Linked DNA regions of Homo sapiens: region 1 is linked to region 2. Evidence: fine-mapped expression QTL. A gene starts in region 2. The other region holds a variant in brackets. All regions are shown on one strand. Distances are from middle to middle.

Region 1 (11,867 bases), 160 kb before region 2:
AAACAAATAATCACTGAGAGAATATAAATTGACAAACTTGGCATGAAGAACAAAGAGAACCACAGAAAATATTTTGAGCCCTATATTTTAATACAAGGCTAATTTGTAATTATAATTTACTTAGAAAATTAGAAACATGAAATGCAATCATTAAGAAATAAATGGAGTAACAAGAAAATATCAAGTCATTTTTTGTGTTTACATTAAAAAATGTTACATCAGAAATCATTAATCTGAAGCCAAGAAAAGCTTTTGGCTATGTATACATGAGAGGCATTTCTTAGCCTATACATTCTTCAAAAACAAATATGGTAATCCCCTAACTGTAACATCTACATAAAAAAAGTTTTTAATATCATCAGCCTATTGATACTATGACAATCTCCTCGAAGTAGACAAATTACTATTTAATAATTAATAGATAAGCTCTGATTGATATTTATGCTATTTGACCTTAGTGGAAAACAAAGCCTAATATATTTACTTTTAAGAGTTATGCACACGAGTTGGAAGTCAGTGATTTTGCCTGGTCGACTTAGGAACAAGAAATGAGATATGAAGCTGACAGAGGAATCATAAGGTTCCCACAGAGCCCAGCAAGGAAGAAACTCCCTGCCACTCCAGCTCTCGGAGGAACCAGGGGCTTCTGCATCTCTTGTCACCCTCCAGGGAAAAGCAATTTGACTACTGCCACACTGATAGCCTTTGGGTTGAGGTTTTTAAATGATGGGAACAACAGTTTGCTACAAAAATCTATTAAGACTATCTAGTTTACCTGCCTTTGGCTGCCTATGGAAGGCCTACAGTTCTCAGAGACACACTTGCTACACTCTGCTGCTCTCTACTAGGGATGTGAGGTAGCCTGTGTTCAGGTACAGGTCTGAATAACAAACAGATGCTGAGTCCACTCTGATTTACCTTTCCCTACATGAAGAAGGAAGGAAGAAAAAAGAGGAGTACAAATAAACTTATCAAGGAAAAAATATAAGAACATACCCTAAAGGTCTGAAGGTTATGAATTTCCAGAATGGATTAGACCATTCAGTGAACACCACAATGAATTTACATATGAAACAGAAACACAAAAAATGAAGATATTGAAATCTTCTTTAAAAAAAATCCATATTTAAATAGGGATTATTCAGAATGCCATTGAACTTCTCAACAATACTAGAAAGAAAAGACAAGAGTCATACCTTCAAAATTCACAAGATAAGGATTCTAAGTCTATGATTCCATGTACAATTAAACCTTCTACCAAGTAAAAGTGTGCAATTGTGGCATTTTCCTAATATGTGACAGTCTTTTAAAAAATACCTCCCAGGCAATCTTTGACAGGAAGCTATTTGACAGTATGCTCCACCAAAATGAGGAAAAAGTGAAGAAAGAAGAAAGGAAAACCAAGAAATGCAATATGCAACACGAGAGAGAGGCAAACGAAGTCCCGGGATAATAGATGGACAACAGACACAGAGAACAATTCATTCATACCAATTCCAAGAAGGATGTTTCAAAAGGAAGAGAGCGAGAAAAGAAGAGACAGAGAAAAAAAAAAACATGAAAGGAATAGAGAGATCATTAAATAGTTTTCACGACTGCAAGTAGTTCATGAGGGTGATGGAAAAAAAGAAAACAACAGAAAAGGAAATTATTCAATCCAGGAAAAACAGAGAGTTGTATTAAAAGGAAAATAAATCACACCTAGTTCCGCAGTATAAACAATATTTACGTAATCATAATGATGAAAACACTGGAGAATGGTAGGAGAAGTGGATATGGGAGAAGGGAAAGGACTTCCATAAAAGGAAGTCAAAAATGATCTAAAATTGCAAAATCAAAAAATAACAACACGAGCATAACATTTTAAAGGAGGTAGGCAAAGACAAGGAAAAACCTACCAGTGAAAGTATTTGCTTTTTGAAGATAGGAATCCAAGGATGGGAAAAGTGGGCAGCAAACAGCTGCTTATCAGCTGATATTACTAATACCAGTCTTAGAATTCCCTGACTTTATGTTCATACATTATTTATATTTAAAAATCAGAGGAAGATCATGTCCCTTTAGGCTCCTTTATTTTAGAAAAGTGCCTCCCCACGGCCCCACATTTTGTCTTCCTAAATGACACTAACTGTTTAAAGTAAAAAGACCAGTTAATGCATAGAATATCCCACATTCAGTAGTTGTCTTACTGCTTTCTTCATGGTGTTATTTACCTTGTCTCTCTATTTCCCGTATTAACTGCAAATTAGAAGTTCAACCTAAAAGACTGATTAGACTCAGGGTAAACAACTTTAGCAAAAATATTTCTTAAGGGATGCTGTAAGACCAGGTACTTCATATTGGATCACATCAGGAGGCACGTAAGGTCAGGCTGTCTGACTGTAAGTTATGCCACCCTTCACGACTTGGTTAAGATCATGGCAGTTAGAGCCCAACTTTGAAACTTAAAAAAAAAAAGTCACTAGGGTAATACTTTGGTATCATGCAAATAACCTTTTATCATCAATCTTTCACCTGATTTCAGTACCACTAATGACTGCATGAATAACTCTTTCATGGTAGATTGCAAAATTGGTGACTGCTATCATTTGCTTCATAAGAAATAAAAATTTCCTTTAGTCAGATATGAGCCCCCCCTCCCAAAATAAAAAGAAGAAATAAAAATGTCCTTAAAAGAAAAAGGAAAAGAGAGAAAAGAGGGAGAAGATAAAAAGAGAGCAAAGAGAAAGAGAAAACAGAGAATGAGGCTTTCTTGTCTAAATATCTGATTTTGTAAATCAGGAAACTAATGACCAAAGAAGTAAAGTGACTTGGTTAAAAGTCATAAAAGTTTAAAACAGGTCTGCTGGTATTCACCACTCTTTCATGTGTTGTTATTTATGTCTCCAGATGTGAAATTTATCATATGTGCTAAATTTAATAGAGGGATTAGATTGCTACCTGACTTCCAAAGAAAACATACAAATTTGACTTGCATACAACTAAATAATCCAAAAGCATATTATATACGTTTCCATTTAAACATAAAAGCAGTTAAAAATTAGGTACATTCACTACTTAAAAGAAGTACTATAGGCAAAGGCCAAGAAGAAATAATTCATAGAATAAATATAATTAGCCAATAAATATGAAAAATGCTTCATTAAAAACACAATTACTACCTACTGACTTATAAAAAGTAGTTTTTGTGGAGATCGTGGTGGTATTTTTGTTTTTCAATAGGAAATTATCATGTTTGACAAAATTCAGAATTTAATTATAATTACAGTTGAACAAAATATAGAACTTCCCATATATTGGTAGGACAAGAAATGTTTATCCTAGGCAATAGGATTGCAGATAATTTTATTTTCTTCCTTATGTTTTTTTCACATTCCCAAAATTCTCTAAGGTAAGCATTTGGGGAAGCAACGTTTTTGTTTTAACTGTTAGAATAAAAAAACACAATAAGACTGGCATACTGTGTATTCTTACCCATATCCTCTTTCTGGCAGACATTCTAGTAGGTCATAGCAAAGACAGAGTTGATCATTTCGTTCACAGGTATAGATGCACTCTAGTGCTATTGCCATCAGTTGGTCCTGATCAGGAATAATTTTTTGCTGCAGCTACAGAAAATAAAGTATGTTGTACTAAATGTCAACAGATTTATAGTCAATTTTTCCATATCCCAATACTACTGTCAACAGAATATTAAATAGCACAATTAATCAACTATAGAAACAAGTCTTGATTTTTCTTTATAGATTTCTGGGGTCTTTAATAATTCTAACTGAAATCACATTTTAATTACAGATCAACTATAAAAGATAATTTGTAACCCCATAAGCTATGTATCAGCTGAAAACAGATTCTTCAATTTATGACCCAGTCAATATAGAAAAAAGAAACACTGTGAATTAAAAAGGCAATTCATTAAGAACATTTCTAACCCTGAAGCCAAATTCTATGTGTTTCAGTTACAAAGTTATATAAAATTCCTTAACTAATATTCAAAGATGTTACAACCTATTACTTTTCAGTAGGCATTATATATTACTCATTTAACTACAGAGTGCTGACATTCTATTCAAAAGAAATCCAACTGTAATAGATCAATACACAAATCACAGAACACATTCCATATTTCTGATGAAGAAAGATGGCTACTTAGGGTGACTTTCTGTATAGAACAAAGCATTTCCCATGGCAAACCACAGATTCCCATTCTTGGAGTATTTTCCAGGATATGAAAATAACCAATTGATTTTTTTCTCATCTATAAAGCATGAATATTAACAATACCTTTCTAAGAAGACTATTTCAAGGATTAAATTAATAAATATAGAATGAAAAATAAATACAGCAAAAAATCATTTGCATGCTTATATTATTAGCACCACAGCAACCAAAATGAAAGTAATTTTCTTAGAGCTCTTTTGAACAATAAAATAAATCTAAGATAATTTCCATGATAATAGTCTACTGGTTTTCAATGTTTTAGTAGAAACTCATCAGTAAACACAAAAGAGATAGGAAAGTGATGGAGAGAAGCTACCAAACAAGGGCATTTTCTCAGTAGAAAAATCACATCAATGGACGTAAAAAAGAAACTTTCAAGGTTACCAGGAAAACAAAGTTTTCCAAAGCTGTTGAATTAAAGGATTTATATACATTTCTTCAAGGTAGAGTTGGCCCTCCATACCTGTGGGCTCCACTTCCCTGGATTCAACCAGCCATGTATCCAAAATATCTGGGGGAAAAAGTGTCTGTACTGAACATGTACAGACCATTTTTTCTTGTCATTATTCCCTAAACAATATAGTATAAAAACTATTTACATAACATTTACATTGTATTAGGTATTATATGTAATCTACAGAAGATTTAAAGTATACAAGAGGATGTGCAAAGGTTATCACAAATACTACACCATTGTGTATCAGGGACTTGAGCATCCATGGATTTTGGTAGCCTGGCGGCAGGAGGGCTTAAGAGGGGTACTAAAGCAATCCCCCCCAGATACTGAGGGATGAACGTATTCATCTGAAAAATGTCATCTGACAAAGAGTTAACCAAGGTTGCAAAGTGACTAACTGGTAAAATAGGAACAAGCTGACAGTAATAAAAATAAGTACTGTTGAAAATTAATAAAAACAGCTACCTTTTCCTGATTTATTTTTCCTTCCTTCGTGTGTGTGTGTGTGTGTGTGTGTGTGTGTGTGTGTCTATACACTTTTTTTTTTTT[T/C]CCAGATACAAGGTCTCACTATGTTGCTCAGGCTGGTCTCAAACCCCTGGCCTCAAGTGATCCTCCTGCCTCGACTTCCCAAAGTGCTGGGATTACAGGCATGAGCCACCACACACAGCCCTCTGATTTCTTATTGTGTGCCAGGTACCATTTCTAAGTGTTTTGTGTGCACTAATTCATAAATCGTCATAACAATCCTATAAAATTACTACTAGTACTATTCTCATTATACACAAATGAAAAACAAATACCCTAAGAGGTCAAATAATTTGCCTGAACCCACAGAGCTAATAAGTGGTAAAGCCAGGATTCAAACCAGGCAATTGGCTCCAGAGCCTAAACTAAGCAAGACAGGCTCTCATAATCCTGCATTCAGGAAGAATGAAAGAAATTGAGAGAAGATATGGCAATAAAACACTCATATATGGTAAGAAAACATCCCTGGAAGATAAAAACACTGAAACCAATTTCAGTCAAGGAACAATTTGGGAAACCATTTGAAATAAAAGCCAAAGTCCTTGATGTCTTACTTGTTCTCCCCACTTCCTATCTTTCCCTCTGTGAGACATTAAATAATCACTTTTTTTTTTAATTTTTTTTTTTTTATTTTGAGACAGAGTCTCGCTGTGTCGCCCAGGCTCAAGTGCAGTGGTGCAATCTCGGCTCACAGCAACCTCCACCTCCCAGGTCCAAGCGATTCTCCTGCCTCGGCGTCCTGAGTAGCTGGGATTACAGGTGCCCACAATCACATCTGGCTAATTTTTGTATTTTCAGTAGAGATGGACTTTCACCATGTTGGCCAGGCTGGTTTCCAACTCTTGACCTAAGGTGATTCACCCACCTCAGGCTCCCAAAATGCTGGGATTACAGGCATGAGCCACTGCGCCCGGCCCTAAAGAACCACTTTTACATTCAATGTCCTTGAGTCCATATTTGACCACATATGTTCAAACTTTACGTTGAGAATCCTTTAACAGTCCTTCAATATGAAAGGTAAAGAATAAATCTTTTGCCTTCCACTTAAACACCTCTATGGCCTGCTCCCATGAACCACTTACCCTTCTACATAAAGTTTTATTTCACTCAAATTAAATTACTTGCATTTACCTAAACATGATATTAACCAGATTATGTCTCCTTGTTTTAGTCTACTCCTACCTGGAATGTCTTCTCAAGAAGACATGTCTTGCCATGTCTAAAACCTACCCAATAATCCAGTGTTATCTCCGTTTGACTTTGACTTAAATTCAGCTTTCCCAGATGTCTACAGTCCTGGAGTATGCTCAACAGTTGCTAGTCCAGTGAATAAGTCCTTATACTACTCTCATACATAAGATACCCTTCTCTCTCTGTATTCCTATGGCACATTTCTTTTCTCTTCTTATGCCATTCTGCATATCTTTTAAAATATAATCTATCATGTACATGAAACATACTGTTCAAATTTATAAGACATTTTTCAATCTTTCCCTGTTAGAATCCCTATAAGATGCCTAACTTCATATAGTCTAAGACACACTTTTTTTTCATTATTCCTTCCCTATTATCTCAGTTGTCACTTTTATACTGTCATTTGCCCTTTCTCAAGCTAAAAGAGGACAGCCCATCTGGGACTTCCTAAGAAGTCAATGAAATGAGTCTTCCACACCATAGGCCGCAGATCATCACCCATACTGCATAGCAAGGTAAAATGCAAAAGAATAATAATTTCTAAAAACTCTTAAAATTATGCACTATATACAACTAGAAAAGAACACAGATGATAAGATAGGATACCTGGAATATCCCAAAGAATCAAGCAATCAAATCAGTGAAGTAGCAGAATACAAAACTAACATATAAATAGCTTTTATATACACAAACATTAAATAGTTAGAGGAAATGAAGGTAGATAGTATAAACAGAGAAAACTTAAAACTTAGGAATAAATTTAACAAAAAATGTGCAAAACATCTAAGAGGAATATTTTCAAGCAATTCTAAAAGAGATTTAAGAATACATAAACTAATAGAACAACATCCGCTATTATTGGATAAGATGACTGAACATTATACAAATATTGGTCTCCCTAAGTTAATGTACAAATTCAATGCAATCACAATAAAATACCAATAAGCAATTTTATGAAAGTAGACAAACTGTTACTAAAGTTCAGATAGAAAAACAAATATACAATAACATGTAAAAAAAAAAAACAAAACAAAAAAACATGAGGAAAAAAACCCACAGAGGAATACTACCTCCTCAGACATTAAAACACACTAAAATCTCTATAATTAAAATCATGAAGTACTAGTGCATGGACAGACAGACCAGTAGAATATAGAAACTCTAGAATTAAACCCATGTACAGATGGAAATTTAGGTATATGACAAAGGTGGCATTTCAAATCACTAGGGTAATGGTAAACTTTTTAATAAATGATGCTGGAACAACTGCGTGGTCATTTGGGAAAATAAAATCAGATCCATGTCTCACAATACAAAAGAATAAACTCCAAATAAATTGGGAAGAGAAAAATAAAACCATGCAAGTACTAGAAGAAAACGTGAGAGAATTCTTCCTTAACTCTGAGTATGAAAAGGCTTTCCAACTATTACTCAAAATACAGAGGCAGTAAAAGATCGAACAATTTGACTACACAAAAATTAAAAAGTGAAAACATTGTATGACACAATAAACAAAGTCAAAAGACAACTGACCAACTGGGAGAAATATTAATATATGCCACAGAGAAAGGGTTAGTTACACGAATATGTAAGAATTCCTAAAAATTAAGGTACAAAGGAACAAAAACCCTATCGAAGAATGGAGTAAGGACAGGAATAAATTCACAAGAGAGGTAATGCCTATCTAACATATCGGAAAATGTTAAAACTCTTAATTAGAAAAGCACAAATTGAAACAACACTGAAATACCATTTCTCACCTATCACATTGGCACAAATTTTAAAATATGACAACAAATTCTGTTGGCAAAATTGTGGAGAAACGGGCATACTCCTACTTGGCTGGTGGGAATGTAAATTAGAACAGTCCTACTAAAGAAAAATTTGGCTACATCAAGACAACTCTTGCCTTTTTAAACCCAGCAGTCTCCTTCCAGGAATATATGCTGAAAATACACCAATAATATAAAAATACATGTGGACAAGGTTATTCATTGAAGCACTGCTTGTAATTGCAAAAATATTGGGAATGGCATGTATCCCAACACATGGAAAGCTAGTGAGACTAAGTAAGTTTTTAAAATTTTATTAGATTTAGATTTATATCCATATGTGGCTAGTGACTACCATTTTGAATAGCATAGCTTGAGAGGTACTTTTCACTTCCTGAGGACCATAGACCAAGAGAAAGTGCACAGAAAATTGCAGCCAAAAGTTTAAGGGGTTAAGTATGCCCTCCGCAAACATATCTTGCTGGGACAGGAGTCCAGGACCTGCCAAGGAGAGGGGCCTAGTAATCACCCAATACTTCTGATACTTTCTGGAGGACTACACCCTAGGAATAGGGGAGAACTGGAAATAGGAGAGTCTTTTTGAAACTTGAAACCGCTCAATCCCTGATCAGATGACAGTGACTTCACTACTCAGAGAATAAAATGGCAAAGAGAGTGGAGATTATTTGCCACACGGGTAACTAGCAAAGGATAATTTCCATATCACAGTACTGCAAATTAAACCACAAGGAGATGTTGCTACGTACACAGCAGAATGAGCAAAATTTTAAAAAAGACCCTCAATGGCAATTACACAGGTGTTCTCTTTAGAAAAATGTCTAGCCTTATACATTATTTGTAGTTTTCTGTATTTATGCCATATTATTTTTCTATGCTGCCATAATAAATTACCACGAACTTGGTGACCTAACACAAATTTATCCTCTTACAGTTCTGTAGGTCAGAAACCAAAATGGACCTGACTGAGCTAAAATTCAGTTGTCAGCAAATAAATGTGTTCCTTCTGATGTTCTAGGAGAGAACCCACTTCCTTACCTTTTCCAGCTTCTAGAGGGTGCCCACACTACTTGTCTCAAGGCCCCTTTCTCTATCTTCAAAGACAGCAACAATCTGACAATTCTATAGCATCCTGACCACAGCCAGAAAGATCTGCTACCTTTAAGGACTGGACACACCTGGATAATTCAGGATAGCTTTGCCATCTAAAAGTCCTTAGTTTAATCAAACCTGCAAAGCCCCTTTTGCCAGGTAAGGTAACATCTTCATAGGTTCAGGAATTAGGACATGGACACTTTGGGAGGCCATTATTCTACCTACCACATGTGCTATACTTCAGAATAAAAATATAATAAAGTAATACGCATACTTGACTATTCAAAGTCTGGTTAAGATTATCCTCATCCAACACCTGAACAATTCAGATCCTCTGGTCATTTTAACTCTGATGCTAAAACTACCTTCTTACTATTGTTCACCTTGCTTTTAATACTTCCCATACTTTTTCATTATTATTAATTTATACACTGAATGCTTTATATTTTTCTCATATTTACTGTTTCCTAAGTATGATTATTTTTTCCCCACTCTTTATCATTCCCTCTTATATCTCACTACTTTCTTTTTGTATATAATTTCCTTCTTCATGAAGTACATCCTTGAATAATTCTTTCAGGATGGGTCTGTAAATGATAAACTCTCTGTTTTCACTTATCTTTAAAAAGTCTTTTTTACATTCACATTTGAATGATAGTGTCTCTAAGTAAAATATCCTGGGTTAGAAATGCAGTATACTATGTGGCTTAAAGATTTTGAAGTCATACTACTTAGGCTTAAATCCCTAATGCATCAGTAAATAAGAAACATATAATGTGAGCAAGCTAATTAACTACTCTGCTTTCTCTGAATCTATAAAATGCGAACAATGATAGCTATATAGTCATAAAAATTAAATGAGTTAATACATGTGAAATGTTTAAAACATAACTACCAAAGAAAAAGCATTAAGTAGCCAGGCGTGGTGGCTCATGCCTGTATTGCTAGTGCTTTGGGAGGCTGAGCTGGGAGGACTGCTTGAGGCCAGAAGTTCCAGAGACCAGCCTGGGCAACGTAGCAAGACACCATCCCTACAAAAAGTTATTTTAAAAGCATCAAGTAAATCCTGGCTATCATTAACTATTAGGTTGACTTAAATATCAAGGTTAATTTTCCTTGACATTTAACACATATATATTATTTCATTGTCTGCTGGTATCCATTGTTCTTAAGAAGTCTGCTTTCAGATTTACGGTTTTCCTTTGACTGTAACTTTTGTTTAATCCTAGGCCATTTTTAAGATTCTCTCTGTGCCCGTGGTATCCTTAAGTTCCATTAGAGTACATCTAAATATAGGCTGAACTGTATTTCACTTATCCTCCTCAAGATCTGAATGCACCTCGTATCTTTCATTGATTTTAGGAAAGTCCCACATTGAATACTGTCTGCTTATTGTCATCTCTAGTCTCTCTTCCTGGAATGCTTATTACTCTCATGACAGACCTGCTCTCTCTATCCTCAATGTCTTTTAACCCCATATATTTTTCATTTCTTCACCTTCATGTGTAACAATCCAGAAAATTTCTTAGATTATCTTCAAGATTTCAATTCTTTAATTGTAGCCAAAATTCTTTTGAATCCATCCATTTAATGTTTTGCTTTTATTATTACAGTTTCAAATCTAGAAGTTCTATGTGCTCTTTTTCAAATCTTACTCTTTTTTTCACAATTTCTCCTTCCTATCTCATGTCTTTATTTCTTTCCTCATATCCTAAATATTTAAAATATTCATTTTATAGCCTGCATCTGATCATCTATTACCAGAGGGGAAGTGGAGCAAGGCCTGCCACGGAGTTTTGCTCAAAGTTTAGTTTCCTTTTGTGTTTTATAAAGTTGGATTGTAAACTTATCCTCATCAAAGCTTTATCTATAAGAATCTTGTACAATCTAGATTAAAGTGAGTCCTTCAGAGAGGTTTTGCTTTTGCTGCTACCAAGCAAACTAGGTATCACCAGCCCATGTCCAGTTTTATCACAGGTCACAGAGGCGTATTAATTGAAAGCACAAATTCATGTTAGGCAAGCCTGTTGTTTGACTGCTCAGAAAGAAACTCCCTGCCCCCACATTCCCCACTCCCCTAGAATCCAGAATACATACCCAGGGAGTCATGCTCCTCTGCTACCTTCATGTGCCAATGATAAGCAGTTTCCTATTCTACATTATTGACAATGCATCTTTTAAAGAGCCATGGCATTATATAGAAGTCTTATTTCTTCTTTTTCTTTTATTTTCTGCATGACAAAGAATCTTTAATTTTAAATGAGTATCAGTATACCAAGTAATAACATGTAGAAAGTTTGTGAATTCTATCATCTGGTGATTTTGATTAAGAGAAACTAAATGTAGCCCAAACAATTCCCAAGTGTTCATTATTCTAACCGTTAGCAAGAATAAACTACTTTAAGGCTTGCTGCAACTTCTCACAGGTTCAAGTAACTATTTAATACTTTTTCATAAAGCCCATGACCTTCAAGAAAGTGTTAGGGCAAAAAAAAAATTATTTCATCCCTTTTTTTCTTCAAAGAAGTGGATTTCTTCTTACCAGATCTAAGAAAGAAAAAGTCAACACTGATACATGTGTATTT
Region 2 (11,867 bases):
ATCATGAGACAGATGAATCACTTAATGGTGCATTTGCAACCTGTACAATGATTCAAGGAAAAAGGCTTCTCAGGAGGAAGGGAGACAAAAAGATACCTACTTCTGATGCCTGATCATAAGGTTCTCACACAGAGGACAGGGCTTGTAGCAGAGTTAACTTTTTGAGTCTTCCTTCTCAATAAATAAAAAAAAGAATTATCAAGCAGCAACCTGAACAAGACAAGCTTGACACCTCATCCAAGGGTGTTCAGGACTAACAAGCTGTCGCCTAGAGAAGTCAGAAAACACAGCCCACCTCCCACACTCCTATCCTCTCCTTCCACTCTCTCTTCCTACTCATTGCTCTATCCTATCATATCCCACACCCACAAAAAAAGTGACACAATTAAGTATAGAAATTGTAAATATGCATACATATATACATGTATGCACATACACACACACATACATAGAGTAAAAGCAGAAAGACGTTGGAGCAAGTCCTAGAGAACGCCAAAGGTCTCTTTTATGGAACTATATTATCTCTGGAACTTTACGACAAGATATCCTCAACGAAGAAGCAATCTATGTAAATAATTCTATAAAACAATTCCTACACATGTATCTAAAAGCAGAATTATAACTTTTTTGTCATAATAATAATTTCTTTGTTCTTTCTAAAGCTGGAAATTAGCATCATCCCTGCAAATATACTTAACACTCAAGGAATTAAAAAATATACAAGAACTGAAACCTAAAGAACCTTCTCTGATATACAGCAGTTGAATATTAACCACAAGTGAGATGACATGACAAGAACAAAAATGTATTTTAAAAGATATGCAGGCTACAGATGCTTCATATGGACATTCAAGATAAGCCTGAGAATAGTCATCAGAGGAAGCAGAAATTGTCATGAGACATTCTTAATAGTAACTAAGGGAACAAAAACTACCCTAAGTCTACTGAGATATCTTGTCAGATTCTACCTAAATGTTTGAAATGTCTCATACTGAGTTTGCCTGAATGTCAGCAACTTTATCATGATCTAGAATTCAATTATGAAAACAAATCATATATAGAACAATATTGTTTATATTTGATGTTCATACTGTTTCTCTGAAGAACCGAAGACTCACCTGTACCAGATGTATTGGCGTAAAAATAATAAACGATCTGTAATCAAAAGAAATGGCAAAGCCAAATATAAATCAGCTGTTAAGAATCATTTTCAAATTAGATTTATAGATGAGAAATCTAAAATATACTACAGAGCGAGTCATTAAAAAAAATAAAGAACTCAAGTCTTAAAATGAGAGACTAAATATAACCTAATATACACTGTAACATTTACAGGGTCATATACTTATTAAATTCCATGTTTGTGTGTTATTCAAAAGTTTCAAGTATTTCCTAACTGTTCAAGAAATAAAAGCAGTTTGAGATGTTAAATTTAATCTAAGAAGCTTTCATGAAACCATGGACTAGAAGTTATAATAATCACCCCTTAGAAACCAAAATATTTGTATAAAAAATTAAAGCAAGATATATTTTACACTTTATAGCAAAGATTTTTAAAACAGTAATACCTAAAATGGGAAAGCCCACGGAAAACAAAACCTCTAACACGCTATAAAAAACAATGCTTTCTATCATCCTAAATGTACATGTATGTGTGTACCTGTGTATGCAGTTAGGTATATATCAATGGAAAAATATCTAAAGAATAACAGATTCTCTCTAGGTGGTATGAGGACAAATTTTTTTCTAATTTGTAGTTATCTATAGTGTCTGTATTTTCTACAATGAATTTTTATTATTTGTACACATTTTCTAAATTCTCAAAATTTAAAAGCATTTGTCATTATGAAAACTGAATATGCTAGTGCTTCTTGTATCAGAAGATAAAATTAACTATAATTAACTGTAATTTTATCAGAAGATAAAAGGATAATCAGAAGATTACAGTTAATTTCAAGTACTTAACTTCTGTGAAAATGAATTTTCTCTTTATAAGGAACTTAAATTCACTGGTATAAGGATGGACTTTGAAGCCAGAAAGACATGCAGTCAAATTCCAAATGAATGACCTTGAGCAAGTTTTCTTATCTAAAATCATAAAGGAGTAACGGCACCTTTCTGGTCTGATAAAAGGACTCTATTAATGAATATGGTAAACCCGTCATGGCACCAGCTCAGTAAACCTAGTGCTCAATCCTTTCTCAGACTCTTGTTAGTTCATACGTAAAATTTGTCAGGAGTTAAATGAATACCCTGGCTTATCAAATCTGTAATTTGAGTATCTCTGACCAGATCTATCTGAAACACCACATAGACCTCTTAAAATAGTCTCTCAGTGTATTTTCACCTTCAACATCCACTGACTTTCTGAGACTCATACTGGCTTTGACCTTCATTCCTTCTAGAACAGCGTCCCCCAACCTTTTTGGCACCAGGGACTGGTTTTGTGGAAGACAATTTTTCCATGCAACCTAGATCCCTCACACGTGCAGTTCACAATAGGGTTTGCACTTCCCTGATAATCTAATGCTGCCGCTTATCTGACAGGAAGTGGAGCTCAGGTGGTAATGCTCACTCACCCATCGCTCACCTCCTGCTATGCAGCCTGTTTCCTAACAGACCACAGACTGGTACCAGTCCATGGCCCAGGAATTGAGGACACCTGTTCTAGAATACATCCATAATGGTTAAACCAAAGCTATATACTTTAGCTCTAAGCTGCATTAGAGCTAAAAACGTGCATGCGTAAATATACAAATGTATACATATACATACATATGTGTGTATATATAAATATATATATAATTAAACTCAGATAACACACATTACTTTTATTAGGCTCCACATCAGAAGTCTAAAGAACACATTTTAACTGTTAACCATATCATTACTGTAGAGAAATAAGCTATATTTACCTCGAATTGCTTTCGTGATGATAAAGGATGCACCATGTTTTTGGTTGCCTCTAGGCTGGAATTTAAAACAAAAAACACTTACATTTGAATCTTCTAGTAGTATTAGACCAGTATTACTTATACAATATGTAAACTTATTTTTATTTACTAATACTCAGAGTTTTGGGCACAGGGAAGCAGTGTCTTAAAACTACTTAAAGACTGGATGTTCAGGTGCAGTGGCTCACGCCTGTAATCTCAGCACTTTGGGATGCCAAGGTGGGCTGACTGCTTGAGCCCAGGAGCTCCAGACCTGCCTGAGCAACGTGGCAAAACCTCATCTCTACAAAAAATACAAAAATTGGCCAGGCATGGCGGTGCATGCCTATAGTCCCAGCTACTTGGGAAGCTGAGGTGACCCAGGAGGTTGAAGCTACGAAGCTACAGTGAGCCCTGATCATGCCACTGCACTCCAGCCTGGGTGACAGAGTGAGACCCTGCCTCAAAAAAAAAAAAAAAAAAAAAAAAAGTAGACACAGGACGCGGGACAATAGGAGAAAAGTGAGCATAGCAGAGCTACAGGCACATGTCAGGACTAACCTTGCAGGAAAGAACAAGGATTGAAGCTGGAAACTGTTTCCAAATCAAAAACCAATCCAAAGACAAGAGAAGTCAAGGCCAAAGACCATACTGGTTGCCAGTTCAGCATACTCTATTGAGGCTGTAAGTTTTGCTCACAGGAAAAGTGGTCATATCTCCAAGGCCAATTCATTGACTATCTGTTGTGTATCTATACAGACAATGCTACTAACAAAACATACACAGATACGTAATTGCTATATTAAATAATTCCATTCCATAAGTATAGACTGAACACACCGTGGGTAGGTTCATGACGCTAGGCACTGCATAAGATGCACTAAAGTGCTGTCAAGAAAAGCACAATGGACATACAGTAAGTGTAGACAGATTTTTTTAAAAAACACAGAAAAGTTATTTCACTCAATAAACATGAATTGATTGTTGGATTCATGCAAGACACAATTTGGCCCTGGGAAGAGATATAAAGATGAATCAGATGTCTGCCCTCCAAGAGCTTATAATTCAACAGCTGAAATCAACAGAATGCAGAAATCGATAGAATGCAGAAATCAATTGAACTCCCCCACCCCCAACACACAAACACAAAACAAAGTGCTAAGGGTTTCAAAGTAAGTTAATTCTGTGGTTACTTTTTTGGAATCAATTTATGGTAAGCATTCTGAAACATTACTGCAATTAACCAATGAGTGTTAAGGAGTGGAAACTTATCTAACCAGCTGCCTCAGCAACAGCTTCCTAGCTGCATAACCCAAAAAATATTCACATTAAGACAAACTAAGTACTTGAAATTAAACAGTAATATATGCAGATCTCTACCCGTCTACAAAATAAATTATTCATGATAAGCACAAACTGCAGTGGGAAGGAGGCTACAGAGGAAAAAAATACAAACTTTGGGCTGAAAAATGAGTCGTTTCTCCAGCAAAGAAACACTCAGAAAAAATGTAAGATAACTCACATGGGCTGGACTACATAATCTTTAATAAAGGTTCTTTTCGATCTGGCTGCTTCCTCTGGGTCTAAAACAGTAACTGGCACGTGTTAAGCACTCAATAAATATCTGTTAAATAAACATGGATCCAAAAAATAATAATAATAAAAAATAAAATAAAATAAACATGGATCCATGGTTCCTACTCTTCATCACAGACCCGGGAGGCCTTCACTACCAAACAACTGATAATCCCAAGATCCAGTCCATAAATTATCAACCTCTATAACCCTTCTGTAGCGGAGATCCCAATCCCAGTCAGCAGCTCTTTACTCTGCACTTCCGTGGCATTTTGCTCACATCGCTAACTATAGCGCATAAAACGCTAGGTTATGAAAAACGTTTACGGGACTGTCTCCCCTCTAGACGAGAAGCTCCACGAAAACATATTCATCTCTGTATCCTTAGCACCTAGCACAGCACCTGTGACACCGAGACAGACGAACGGACACGCACACCCTTATTAAATGCTCTTTTATTGAAACACACAAGACCTGGCGCGATCCAGCCCCCAGTATGGGTAAAGGCTCAGATTCTGCGCTCTGCACCAGCCTGGCAGATGCTGCAGACTGTAAGGTCCTGGAAAATTCTCCCATCGCAGTTGAGCGTCGGCCCAGACTAGCCCTAGCCAGACCGCGAGAAGGGACCACTGAGGGTCCAGATAGGAGAAAGGACCCTCGAGTCCAGCGCTGTGCCTTCCCCTCCTAATACAGAGAGCGACACTAACAATCCCCTCTCCTCCCAATACAGAGAGCGAAACTGAGAACCAAAGTGGGATCGTACGCTCCCCAGAGCACGAAGTTCCAGCCCCCAACAACCGAATTCTGAGCCCAGGAAGAATCTCAGGGACCACCACCCCACCCCGCCCTAGACCCCCGCTAGCCCAAGGTGCCGTTGCCAAGGCGACCGCACAAGCCAACCGGCCCTAGTCCCCCACCCACCCGTCTCCACTCCCCTACGTGGCTCCTGCTACGTGGCTCTACCCACGAAGCGCCCGCGCCAAGCTGGCTGCTGCTGTAGATGGGCCTGGTTCACCTGTACTTCAGTCTCCGGTGGCCACTCGGTGTTGACCAACAAGTCATAGAGAATCGTCTCCTCCTCACCCTCTGCAGTGCCTGGACTCAAAGCCGGCCCTGACTCGGGGGCCGCCATGTTCGCCGAGGACTCAGGCAGCGGAGGAGTGTCTCTACGGAATCCCTCACAGGACAAGCTTCTCTATCCGCGGCCGCTTTTGTTTCACGGCAAGGAAATGCTAGGTTAACCCTTTTATGAGTAGGAAGGACAGGGACTATTGCTTGTCTTGGGAACGACTTGTGTCCCGGTCCTGATACACTCCTTGTTCATTAATCTACATGAGATCGGCCAAGTCATTGAGCCTCTCTTATAACTCAGTTTCCATAAAACAGAAATGGTAAAGGTACCCCACTGAAATGCTAATGTTCATTTGTATATTCTTTGCCTAACACGTAGAGAGAGTTCAAACAGTGGTTTTAAAATAAACAACTAAAGTTATCCAATGAAAGGTAGCAGAGGAAGGATGCTACAGGAGCTCAGAAAAGGCAACGAAGGCCAGAGTCTGCAGGGATTTCCTGGAGGACGTGGAGCTTGTCCCTGCGTCTTTAACAATAGGCAGAATTTTAATCTACTGGAGAAGCATTTCAAGTAGCGGGAAATGGAATGAGCAGAGACAGAGGCAGAAATACAGAGTTGAAAGAACTCTTTCAACGTGTCGCCAGTGAGTGACGACTTTCTCAGTGTGGGAGTAAAAGAATTTACCAAGACAGTGGTAGATAAAGAAAGACAGATTAAAGAAAGTATGAAAGTTCGTTGCCAGGGAGCAGCGGGCCGACTCAGCAGAGGAGGAGCTCATTGCTAGGAAACAAAGGCTTGTTGAGAATTTTATAGACTGGAACTTGGAGTGATTGATAACACCAGGTAGCAGGGAGTTAACTTGCTTTTTTTTTTTCTTTCTTTCTTTTTTTTTTTTTTTTTTTGTCAGCTGAAGTGTTTCAGAAATTGAGGCATTTGAAGGTAAGCAGGAAGTTTGTGAGTTAAGTACGTTATCTGGGTAGAAGGGCCATATGTCCTGGGCCATAAAGAAAAGTAGACCTATGGCTTATTTGTTTCTTCCTTTTGTTTATATGTTTTGGACCATGAAGAAAGACAGACGTATAGCTAATTTGCCTTATCTCTTTGTTTTTCCCTGCTCCCACTAGCCTGCCTTTTTTTTTTTCCTAATTAGTACTCAACAAGACGGGTGAATAGAACCCAAGTTGAGAAAGGGTGTAGGGGCAATAAAGTTGAAATAATAGGTTGAGAACCCGCATGGAGGGAGCGAAAAGGTCAACCCCATTTGTTCATTCATTCATTCATTCAACAAATACCTCTTTGTGGACAGTTATAAGCAGAGCCTACTGTAACATGAATGAATATATACTGTACAAAGTATTACACTGTTTCACATCAAAAGAAACACAAATACTGAATATCCCTTGAGATAATTATATTCATGATATCCATCAAGATGCATTAGGCGGTGATGCAATTAAAAGCCTCTGCTGGGAAGCCTCTAACCAGCTCCCATTTCTCTCAAAGTTTAATGACCTCAAAGCCCTACGTCATCTGCCTGCTCCCCTAAATCTCACACCTCATTTCCTGCTCCCCCTACTACCTTCAGCCACACTGGCTCTATTTCTGAACACACCAGACACACATCAACTTCAGGAGTTCTGCAAAGCCTGTCCCCTCCACTTGGAAGGCTTTCTACCAGATGTTTACCTGGTTCCTCCCTTATCTCCTTCAAGTTTTTGCTCAAATGTCGTCTCTCTCTGAAGCCTACCTTGACTGCTCATTTTTAAATTTGCAATGACCATTCTCCAACTCCAGCTTTCCAGAGCTGCTCTATTATTTTTTCCATTACACTTGTCATCACTTAAATGGCTATACAGTATATTTGCTTATTATCTGTCTCCATTCACTAAAAGGTAAGCCATGCCAGGTGCTCTATCTATATGCATGCAAATGCTATATCCATCCCTGCTATATCCCCAGAATTTATAACAGTGCCTGGCATAGAGCAGAGGACAAAATATATATTATTTGTTGAATAAATGACAGACTTCCCAGAAAATCTTTTACACATTGTCTCCCCATAGTATTTCTCTGCATAGCAGCTGTGCCCTTCAATCAAACCCCTCATTGTGAACACCAGACGTGTCTTCTCCCTACCGCACAAGGCTGACAAACTGTATACCTCCGGGGAGCCCCGCCCACATTGCATGCGGTAGAACATGAAGAGGCAGGAACACCATGCACATGGAATGCGGTGTGAGGGCTGGTTACTGGAGTCCTCCAGTACCTCAGTACAACCCCACCTATTTCTCCACACCAAGTTTCCTTGGCTCTTTATTCCTCTGTCTCATCCTTTCTCAGATAGATATTGGGGTTGCTTTCTGTTTCATCACTCTCTTCACCACTTTCACTCAATCTGTACAACCACGGCCAGGAGATAGCTGGTCAAACTGGCAAAGGATGCTTCCTTCTTAGCTGGTGTGCAAAGGGGACCACTGCAAATACACCATGAAGAATTTATTTATTTTACCATCATCACACTATTTTTGTTTGTTTGTTTTTGTTTTTGAAACAGGGTCTCACTCTTTCACTGAGGCCAGAGTGCAGTGGCACAAAGAGAGCTAACTGAAATCTCTACTTCCTGGGCTCAAGCAATCCTCCCACCTCAGCCTCCTGAGTTGCTGGGACCACAGGTGCATGCCACCATGCTGGGCTAACTTTATTATTTTTTGTAGAGATGGGGGGTCTTGGACTTCTGGGCTCAAGTGATCTGCCTCGGCCTCCCACAGTGCAGGGATTACAGGCACGCACCACCATGCCCAGCCTCACACCATGTTAATTGTTTTATCCATCCTCATCCATACCCCACTTACCATAGCATGTACAAAAGGACAGAAAACATAAACTCATGCCTGGCAGAGAGCTTCTACTCTGAAGAAACAACAACCGAAGTGTCACAGGATGAATCTATGCTATTTGGAGAGGGAGTATACATTTAACTTGAAGCAATCCCTGGAAGAAAAATTCTACTAGCAGAGATGCTCTGAGCAGGTAAGTGGGTTCTTAAACCTTCAGCACCACTAGTTAAAATCCAGAAGAGTTCCTGGAAGGGGAGAAATGTGAGGTGACCAATAAAAGGGAAGAAGATGGTAAGAATATGTATGCCACAAGAAGAACTCCAAATGTTGAATATCAGACACGGGTTGGAAAAGAAAAGACAAAGATCTGATCAAGTTCAACTGAATCAAAGGAATAGGATGACTTAAAACAGATTGAGTGGCTGAAGCCAAATTGCTACTTGGTCTTATTTACAGTGACTATATAGCAAAGTATCCAAACTGGGATATTTTTGAAAAGAAAAAGCCATGATTTTAATAGTTATGCTAGGACAACAAGCATGAAACAGGGCTGTCATGGGCAAACTGAGATGATTGTCACACTAATCCTAAACAGCAGAGTGGGTAATTTAATGAAGAGGTGGTGAGCGTTTCACAAGGATAGCAAGACTCTTCTGTTCGTCATTATTCTCTTCTTTCTTCCCTCGTGCTTGTAGTGACACTGGTCATTTTTGTCTGCCCAGGCCCTTTGCTTCCTTCGGAGACTGTTCTAGCTGCTCTTCATTCACTCAGTCAGATAATTCCTAGTGGGGCCGCCAATCCCCAAACTCTGCCCCCTTGACCCAAAGAACTCCATTCCTGCTACTTTGAGCATCAGGTTGAGAATCCTTCCCTGGGATTTTTTTTTTTTTTTAAGTGGAAATGGAGGAAAAGGCTCCTTGCCTTTTTGGGTCACAGAGTTTGAAGAATATTGGGGTTATTAGCATCCATCTTATTCATTCCAGAGAGAAAGCCTGTCTATATAGTGAAAGAATGAAACCAATACATTGAAAAAAACTGAGAAGAGAAAGAGGTAGAGACTTCATCTGATACAAGCATGCTTGAAACAAGAGACACCTGTATGATTCCATCTTCCCAGGTAAGTGATCTAGTTCATTCTCTTTTATGCTTCAACTAGTTTGAGTTTCTAGGCATTGAAACCACCCCTCTCTTGGTGTTTCTACCAGTGGAGTTTGCATTATTTATTTTACCTTAAAATATAGAATATCAGACACGGGTTGGAATAAGGATTTTACCTTATTTATTTATGTACGTATTTATTTAAGACAGGCTCTTGCTGTGTCACCCAGGCTGGAGTGCAGTGGCGCAAACACAGCTCACTGTAGCCTCAACCTCCTGGATGCAAGCGATCCTCTTGTCTCAGCCTCCCAAATAGCTGGGACTACATGCACGTGTCACCACACCCAGCTAAAGATTTACCAAATTTAGAATCTGTATGTTGTGTATGGATCTCTGCAATGTTGCTTCTGAATTGACAGATTGGTGTTATTAGTTAATAATTGAGAGTGTTCATAGCTTACTGAGCTTTTCCATCCTCACAGCCACTGCTAAAATTGACAGACTCAGAAGACAGAGTCTATCTCTATTTCACAGATAAGAATATTAAAGCTTAGAGAAATCCAAGATTACAACAGAGCTAAAATTCAGACAAGGTCCTCAGGTCTTGATCCCGTGCTTTTTCTTTAAACTACCACATGTTACCGAGAACGTCATGGAAAAGATTATTTAAAAACATAGATGGAGCACTCAGATGGTTCAAAGTGAAAATAAACAGTTAAGGATGACCAGGAGTACCAACACGTGGAACTGGGGTATTATCAACCTGTCAAAGGAAAATTAAATACATTATATGTAAGAGTTTGGTTGACAAATACTATTGTGATCATCTAATCAACTCCTTAATTTAGCTGAAAGTCCATCTCTGGTTCAAAAATATTTGAAATCATGAATAAGTCTTTTTTTTTTCTTTTAAATGTTTGGAGAGACAGAGTCTTGCTATGTTGCCCAGACTGTTCTTGAACTCCTGGCCTCAAGTGAGCCTCGCACCTCTCAGCCTCCCAAAGTGCTGACATTGCAGGTGTGAGCCACTGCACCCAGCCTCTTTTCTCTCTCTCTTAGTTTCTTTTTTATGAATAAATCATTCTGAAGAGAAAAATTATGTTTTCCAAATAACCAACACAAATGGTAACTGTAAACTGCTTAAGGAAATAAGATAAATAAAATCTGAGACAGTTTCAAAGTAGGCATCATCATCATTATCATCATCACTATGTTTTGTGTACCTACCCTGCTTCAAGCACTATACCAGGTATCTACAAGTAGATATAGATGTACTTTAGTAAACTGAGGCTCTAAATCACTGTGACCCAACCAAGGTCACATGCTGGTAATGGTAAAGCCACAAATGAAATAGTTTTTGTCTAACAGAGAAGGTACTACGATTTACCCACTTCAAAGAGTAGTGATCTGATGATGATATAAGCCTTTGATGAAAAGGAAATAAATTTAGAAAAATTTTCCTATTTCTTCCTAGCCTTATAGCATATTAAGTGTACTTCAACTGAACTGAATATAATCCTCATTCACTTTGCTGATGACCACAGACATTCTTTCTTAGAATTAGACAAAAACTTAACATCATCTCACATAAAGGAATCATTTTTTGGCCAGGCGTGGTGGCTCACTCCTGTAATCCCAGCGCTTTGGGAGGCCGAGGCGGGCAGATTACCTGAGGTCAGGAGTTCGAGACCAGCCTGGCCAACATGGTGAAACCCCATCTCTACTAAAAAAAAATAAAAATACAAAAATTAGGCAGTCACGGTGGCACACCCCTGTAATCCCAGCTATTCGGGAGGCTGAGGCAGGAGAATTGCTTGAGCCCGGGAGACAGAGGTTGCAATGAGCCGAGATTGTGCCGCTGCACTCCAGCCTGGCCGACAGAGCAAGACTCTGTCTCAAAGAAAAAAAAAAGGGAATCATTTTTCTTCTCTTAACTCATCAATGTATAGCTGTCATTAGCTCATAGATTCATTAGTAGGAGCTCAGCCTTTTAGCTCCTATCAGTTAAAAAGTCCATTAAGCTAAAAGCCATTAATGATTCAGCATTTAACCCTTTTATGCTTTTCAATATTAGAGACAAAAGAGATTAGATCATCATATGAAGTTGCTTCTGTTTTAAAGTTGAAATTGCATAGTAAAATTGAATTTGGGCATTTAAACACTACCTGTTATAGGTGTCATACATTTGTATTTGATTGGATGGTGCACTAGCTCTTTATGAAGAATATAAATTTTAATCATAATATAAAATAACACTGAGAGCAATTCAAGAAATTTTATTTCCTCTAGAAAGCCTGCAGAATCCCAATCAATCCTTCCATAAATATTCTAAGACTTTTATAATATATCTTG

Evidence for each region. PIP is the estimated chance that this variant, and not a neighbour inherited with it, causes the effect.
Region 1: its variant is fine-mapped to the expression of NBAS in whole blood (INTERVAL, PIP above 0.99).

Annotation. Positions count from the first base shown.
Region 1 is chr2:15,398,694-15,410,560 of GRCh38, forward strand. It overlaps NBAS (NBAS subunit of NRZ tethering complex), which reads right to left. Exons shown (of 52, transcript NM_015909.4): 26 at 3,475-3,608. Among named protein-coding and RNA genes, the nearest start is that of NBAS, 160 kb to the right of the region's middle. The variant T/C (reference allele first, on the strand shown) is at 5,228.
Region 2 is chr2:15,555,665-15,567,531 of GRCh38, forward strand. It overlaps NBAS (NBAS subunit of NRZ tethering complex), which reads right to left and starts at 5,670. Exons shown (of 52, transcript NM_015909.4): 1 at 5,524-5,670; 2 at 2,916-2,970; 3 at 1,119-1,155. The coding sequence starts at 5,640. It overlaps LOC105373440 (a long non-coding RNA gene), which reads left to right and starts at 6,484. Exons shown (of 4, transcript XR_001739297.2): 1 at 6,484-6,519; 2 at 8,438-8,610; 3 at 9,401-9,534. RefSeq lists an enhancer at 5,460-5,869.